2 linked regions of the Homo sapiens genome follow. The protein of the gene in region 2 interacts with the protein of the main gene of each other region in a pairwise test. Each region holds a gene or a part of one and is shown on either strand. Other genes may lie near its edges.

The links. The genes of interacting proteins can lie anywhere in the genome.
Region 1: the proteins of DAPP1 (region 2) and RBP7 interact in a two-hybrid assay, tested with the Homo sapiens proteins (one large-scale study listed by BioGRID and IntAct).

Annotation. Positions count from the first base shown.
Region 1 is NC_000001.11:9,996,065-10,000,027, reverse strand, and holds the start of RBP7 (retinoid-binding protein 7), read right to left. Parts: upstream 2,801-3,963; 5' UTR 2,770-2,800; coding exon 2,697-2,769; intron 2,347-2,696; coding exon of another isoform or gene 1,998-2,346; exon of another isoform or gene 1,939-1,997; intron 1-1,938. Other genes in the region: translation initiation factor IF-2-like, read left to right, coding at 1,998-2,346, 3,176-3,309. UniProt on the Homo sapiens protein: Intracellular transport of retinol.
Region 2 is NC_000004.12:99,819,827-99,823,326, reverse strand, and holds part of DAPP1 (dual adapter for phosphotyrosine and 3-phosphotyrosine and 3-phosphoinositide), read right to left. Parts: intron 1-3,500. UniProt on the Homo sapiens protein: May act as a B-cell-associated adapter that regulates B-cell antigen receptor (BCR)-signaling downstream of PI3K.

The sequences.
Region 1 (3,963 bases), on a different chromosome or scaffold from region 2:
TTGAACTCCTGACCTCATGATCCACCTGCCTCAGCATCCCAAAGTGCTGGGATTACAGGTGTGAGCCACTGCACCCAGACCAACTTAATTCTTAAGATAAAATGTATTATAGTATTATGGCTGGGCACAGTGGCTCACACCGAGATCGCGCCACTGCACTCCAGCCTAGGCAATAGAGCCAGACTCCATCTAAAAAAAAAAAAAAAAAAAAAAGAGTATTACAGTATTATGTAAACAACCACTCTAGTGCTATAAGTGTGACCTAAGTACTTAGCACTTTAACAAATTGATGTAAGTACTTAGTACTTTAACAAATTAGATCTGAAGTTGAAACACAGTTGCTGGTTTTCAGAAAACCGTTCTGGATTTAAGGGTTTCTGGATAGGCGACCTCAGAACATGGCACCTTATGTCCATTTTCACGCTGCTGATAAAGACATATCCAAGAGTGGGTAACTTATTATTATTATTATTTTAGACAGAGTTTCACTCTTGTTGCCCAGGCTGGAGTGCAATGGCACCATCTCAGCTCACTGCAACCTCTGCCTCCTAGGTTCAAGTGATTCTCCTGCCTCAGCCTCCCAAAGTAGCTGGGATTACAGGCGCCCGCCACCATGCCCAGCTAATTTCTTTTTGGTATTTTTAGTTGAGACGGGGTTTCACCATGTTGGCCAGGCTGGTCTTGAACTCCTGACCTCAGTTGATCCACCCGCCTCAGCCTCCCAAAGTGCTGGGATTACAGGCGTGAGCCACCGAGCCTGGCAAGAGTGGGTAACTTATAAAGAAAAAGAGGTTTAACTGCCGCAGTTCCACGTGGCTGGGGAAGCCTCAAAATCATGGCAGAAGGCAAAAGGCACGTCTTACATGGTGGCAGGCAAGAGAGAATGAGAGCCAAATGAAAGGGGAAACCCCTTGTAAAACCATCAAATCTCATGAGACATTCACTACCACCAGAACAGTGTGGGGAAAACTACCCCATGATTCAATTACCTCTCCTCAGGTCCCTCCCACAACACATGAGAATTATGGGAACTACAACTCCCATGAGATTTGGGTGGGGACACAGCCAAACCATATCACTTGGCATTTGAGGAAATAACAGTAGCAGGAAGGTCCCCCTCAGACCTTCTTTTGCCCCTCTTCCCTGAAGCAGGCCATAAAAGAATTCTCTGCTCTTCCTCTGAAGAAGATCATAAGACTCTCAAGTGAGAGGTGCTTTTCCCATACCCAGAGGAACACTCTTATCTCTTGGGATATGAAAGAGCAAAATAAATGCCCCTTTATCAACTAAGATGGGCCCTAAGGTTAAGAAAACAAAAATTGGCCGGTGCGGTGCCTCACGCCTGTAATCCCAGCACTTTGGGAGGCCAAGGTGGGCAGATCACGAGGGCAGATGTTCGAGACCAGCCTGGCCAACATGGTGAAACCCCGTTTCTACTAAAAAATACAAAAATTAGCTGGGCGTGGTGGCGGGCGCCTATAGTCCCAGCTACTCGGAGAGGCTGAGGCAGGAAAATGGCGTGAACCCGGTAGGCGGAGCTTGCAGTGAGCCGAGATCGTACTACTGCACTCCAGCCTGGGCAACAGAGCGAGACTCCGTCTCAAAAAAAAAAAAAAAAAAGAAAGAAAGAAAGAAAGAAAAAAAGAAAACAAAAATTGCCCACGGGTCAAGGGTTCAGGGATTGGCCGGCACGGCAACTTCCCAGATTCCTAAAGCTACAAGAAAAACTACACTCGTGGCAGGGCGCGTGGCTCACACCTGTAATCCCAGCACTTTGGGAGGCCAAGGCGGGTGGATCACCTGAGGTCAGGAGTTGGACACCAGCCTGACCAATATAGTGAAACCCCTTCTCTACTAAAAGTACAAAATTAGCCGGACGTGGTGGCTGGCGCACGCGTGTAATCCCAGCTACTTGGAAGGCTGTGGCAGGAGAATCGCTTGAACCGAGGAGGCGGAGGTTGCAGTGAGTTGAGAGTCCGCGCACCGTTGGCACCGCGATGAGGGCGGGAAGCACAGCGCGGGGCCCCCGGGAGCAAGAACGCCGCGGGCACCCAGCCCTCGTGGGAGGCGGCGGTCGGGGCACGCCCCGGGCCGAACCAGGCTCTGCACTCCCGCGGGTGCCCGGACCTGAAGGGTCGTCCGCTGGCTCCAGGATTCTGCATCCCCGACCCGCTCCGGGTGCGCCGAGGCTGCTGGGACTTCGCTGCGGGAGCGCGCCCGGGGCCCCGGGGCCTGCACGGAAGGCGGCTGCGGGGAGGGTGGCCGGGCAGAGGCTTCGGTCCCGGGCGCCCCCTCCCCGGCCGGACCCCCCTCCCCGGCCGGACCCCGAGTCTGCAGTCTCCGCAGGTGTGCCGCGTGCGGGTAGAGACGGACGTGGGGCTGGACGCGGGCACTCAGGGACGGACGGGTGGGGGACCGACGGCCGGGGGAACAGAGGGCGTGGAGAGACGGCCGTGGGGACAGGGGGGCGGGTGGGCGCGGGAAAGGACGGACTGGGGGACTGAAGGACTGGGGTCCCGCGCCCGATGGACGGAGGCGCCAAGGACCAGCGGACTCGGGGGCGACTGGGCGACGGTGGGCGCAGCAGGGCGGAGGCACGGACAGAGGACGTACCTACAGGCCCGGCCCGGCCGCCTTCGCCTGATCCCGAGACCCACGGCGAGCCTCGCGCCGCCGCCGCCTCCCCTCCGCCTTACCTAGGGCCAGCATGTAGCCCTCGAAGTTGTCGCTGCTGAGCAGGGTCCAAGTACCGCTGAGGTCGGCGGGCATGGTCGGGGATCGCGGGACAAACCCGGCGGGCGGCCGGAGGCTCGGGCCGGGACCTATAAACCAGGCGGGGCGGGGCAGGGGGGTGGGGCCGCGCGCGGGAGGAGCAGGTGGGGCCGCGTGGGTCCCACTCACCCCTAGAAGCCGCTGCGCTCCCGGCCGCCTCAGCCCGGTGCTCCTGGCTCTGCCCACCGCGCGGCAGCTTCCCCCTTTCCTTGGGGCTTCCTCTCCTACTGCTTTCTCATGTCCCAGACTGTTTCGGGCCACATTTTCTTCCCTGCTTATATGTTAATGACCCAGGGATGATCTTCAAACTCATGGCATTGAATATTGTCAGCTTCAATAACAATATACCTCTCAACGTAACTCTCATGGTCTCAATAAATAGGAGTTTATTTTTCTTAACAAGGAGTCCTGAGAGAAGTGATTGCTGGTGATGATTCGCACCTAGGAATCACAGTGATTCGCACCTCGGTAACGCCGCAGCTTCGTCTCTGTGACTCTGGTGGCCTTTTATTCCTGCTTGTTACCTCCTGGTCATGAGCTGGCAGCTGGGTTCCCAGCCAGGACATCCACATTCAAGGTAGGGAAGAGGGAAAGCACCAAAGGTCAGTATCCCTGCAGCACAAACCTCCCCATCTCCTATAAGTCTGGATAGTTGGAAAAAAGAAAAGAAATTACCCAGCAGGTTTCTGTGTACATTTCATTAGCCAAAACTGTATCAATGCCACTTCTAACTGCAAGGGGGCCTGGGGATTCTAGTCTGCAGCATTTAGCCTCAGAGCAGAGAAAAGCAAAGGAGAAGGGGTGGGAATATGGGCTAACCTACAACATTAGCCACAAACACCGCCTAGATATGCTGGCTCCAAGACTGACTTATTGATTTTATTTTTATTTTTTTTCTTTTGAGACAGAGTCTCACTCTTTCTTTTTTCTTTTTTTTTTTTTTTTTGAGACGGAGTCTCGCTCTGTGCCCAGGCTGGAGTGCAGTGGAGAGATCTCGGCTCACTGCAAGCTCCGCCTCCGGGGTTCACGCCATTCTCCTGCCTCAGCCTCCCGAGTAGCTGGGACTACAGGCGCCCGCCAACACGCCCGGCTAACTTTTTATATTTTTATTAGAGACGGGGTTTCACCGTGTTAGCCAGGATGGTCTCGATCTCATGACCTTGTGATCCGCCCGCCTTGGCCTCCCAAAGT
Region 2 (3,500 bases):
ATTACTATTATTTTCAACTATTTATTATAAATAAATTCAGATATACTGGAAAGTAGAAAAATAGCATCAATGTTACTGCATTGAAATAATACCCATATTTCAGGTAGAATAATTTTTAACCTTTTGCCACATTTTTAATACAACGTTTAATTTTGACTCTTTCGATGAACAGTTTTAAAGTAAATTACAGATATCCTGACACTTTAACCCTAAATAATTCAACATGCATCTCTCAAAAGTGACATTCTTTTACATAATCATCATACTGTTATTAAAACAAGTGATTACTCTTACACTTTTTAAAGTTATAAACATTTTTAAACAAAGAAGGTCTAACAACAGATAATGGGGGCAGGTGCTAGTGGGCAGGGTCAGGGGAAGCATGACCATAAAGAAGCAAGTGGTGAGCAGCGAACACTGATAAGGCCCAGCAGTGTTCACTGTGCTCTTGGTAGAGGCAGGCCTCTATCAGGCAGTAGGACACAGAGGTCGATGGGCTCAGAATAGGAATTTATCCTCTACGGGAGTTGGTAGGAGCCAGAAATTAATGCAGGTTTTAACAAAATATCTAAGAGTATGGTCATGAAAACAGAAGTACAAGAGAAAAGCCAAGTTGAAGCTTCTCATAGGATGAGATGGATAGAGGTAGAGACCAGAACCAGACCACCAGAATGCTGACAAACCAGATGGGTCTTGGGGACTGGGTGGGTCTGAGTTCATGTGAGCTTTTTCAATTCTGAATCCTTGCATATTTTGCTACCATCACTCCTTTATTCAGGCCATTTTCTCTGTAGAAAATTTCACCTTTTCTAACTTCAACTGACAAAAATCATATCAGCTCCAAGGCCATCTTCTCCACTTCTACTGTGGAGAAGATAGCCTTCCATAGGAGATTGTTTTATCTAGACACTGTCACAGCCCTCAGCCCACACAACACTGCATTCTAACTCTACATGCATATGAATCCTCCATCTCTGCACAGCCATGCCTTCTTTATTGTAGTCTCCTCTATGCTGCCTTGCCTGGCGTCATCATACAACAGATAGATCTATGACCCAGTAGAAGAGTGAATGAATGAAACAAAGTGACTCCCCACAACATGGACAGTCTGTGGGACAGATTTCCACTTGTAAGTAGAAGGAAGTCACCCTTTGGAGGAACAGAAAAACACCACAACTGAAGAGGAAATTCACTTGAGTTATGAAGAGATGGAACTGTACACTAGTTACATACTAATTATACAACCACAGAAGAACCACCTTCCGTTTTTAGAATCCAAGATTACAGAGCTGTGCACAGAAGAGGAACAAGCTGTATTGCTGTAGTTAGTGTCACACCGCTGTAAACAGGTTCCACTGAAATTTTGACTTTACGTTTCTTAGCTGAATAAATTTTTCTAGTCCTGAAAATGAATTCTACACAAAATTCAATAATGTTCTGATTAACTAGAATGCTGGCCTGGCTTTGTGTACATGTGCATGTATATTATGTGAGGAATAGAAAGAATAATGTCTTTTATAGTAAACTTTGTTATAATCACAGAACTTTCTTTGCTTCTCTCAGTTCATATTAAGAACTATGAACATGTACTAGTATAGTAAGATGAGAGAAATTTGATGAAAACCAGGAGGTTACATCAGCAGTCAAGCATGAAGGCTCTGGAGCAAAACTCTTGGATTTGAAGGTATGTTAGAATGGAAACTTAAGCATGTGATTAAAACTCTGTTCTTTACTTTTCTCATCTATAAATGGGGACAACATTAGTAATAATACCCACCTCACAGCAATGTGTAAATTAAACAAGTTCACATGGGCAAAGGGCTTAAACTAGTGCTTAGCACATGATAAGCATCCAATAATTACTAATTGCCATTACTAGAATACATACCTTTGACCAGTGGGCTCTACAAAGCAGCACCATGCAGTGGAAAGCTCTGGGGTAAGTTCCTAGGTGTGTCTCTCAGCTCCACTACTTACAAAGTCTGTGACCTGGATCGTATACTTAGCTTATTGAAGTCACCTTTTGCGTCTATGAAATGAGTATGGTGATATCGTATTGAAAGTGTTATTGTGAAGCCTAAATGGCATTATGCGTGTGAATGGTATGGTGCTGATGCATAGTAGGTGGTCAGTAAATTAGGACTATCACAGCAGGGAAACAACCTGGTTTGTGAAGTCAGCATGGGTTTTGAACACAGACACTCAGAGACTGTAGGCAACCTGATTTTTCTGCTCTTGAGTCTCTTCCTGTGTAAAGCTGGAATACCAGTGCCTTTCAAAGACCAGAGCTGGTGTCTACAAAATGCCTGCCTTATAATACGGACTCATTTTGTTTATTATCATTTATTCCGTGGGTCAGCAAACCACCAGCTGAGGGTTAATTCCTGTCAGACACCTGTTTTAGTATGGACTGGGAGCCAAGAATGGCTGTACATTTTGAAATGCTTGAGGGAAATAGAAAAATATTCATAAAAATTATATGAAATTCACATTTCAGTGTATAAATAACGTTTTGTTTGAACACCATCACGGTCATTTGTTTCTGTGTTCTCTGGTAGTTTTTGCACAACAGCAGATGTGAGTAGTTGAGGTAGAGACTGTAAGGCCTGCAAAGCCTAAAACATTCGTTACCCGGCCCTTTATAAAAAAAAGGTTTGCTGCTCCATGGTCTACTCTAAACTTCTCTTATATGTGACTAATTAGTTATCAATTTATTTAAATATTCAGAGCTTGGAATCTAGTTCTTTGGCACTGGCCAATCCAGCCAAACACTGGCACTTTCTTATACAACTTTCGATTTGAGAAAGTATTTAAAAAAGAGAACGTTTATTATGTTTCTCACTTGGAGTTACAACTGACTAGATCATTTGAATATTTAATTTTAAAGTATGCTAAAACACTTTCATTTTGTTATTTCTTTTGTGTTTATACATATATATAGCTATATGTAGAAATAGTATAGTAACCTTTGTTAAAGCCAAAGAATTGCTGGAATTTTCAGTAATTTAACTAGCTATTCTTTACCAGTTTGTTACTTAGGTGATATCTCCAGTATTTGTTACTTGTTTTATTTTGCCATATTTTCATTTTGCAAGCAGCAAACAGCCTGACCCATCTCCTCGTTCATGGTCCACCTCCTTCCTCTCCCCTGATTCTCCACACCCTCACTTCTTGCCCTCCCCACACCTCTCTTCCCCCTAAGCCCATACCCTCCCCTGAGAAGTGTAAGCGAAGCTGAGCAACAATTTAAGATGGTTTTATTTCTCCTTTGCTTCTGGACACATTAATGTATTTTAGATGAAAGAAAATTAATGATTTTAGGCTGACACTCTATAAATGAGACATGGAAAAGCACTGTGTTGCTTGATTTAGGTATTTTAGAAAATAATAAACCTGTACTCTGAGCAAGTTGTATATGTCCTGGAAAGGCAAGTGATGGATTTGCTGCAGTTCAGGGCTCAATTTACAGGATTTACATATTCCAGAGCCTGAAAAAAACA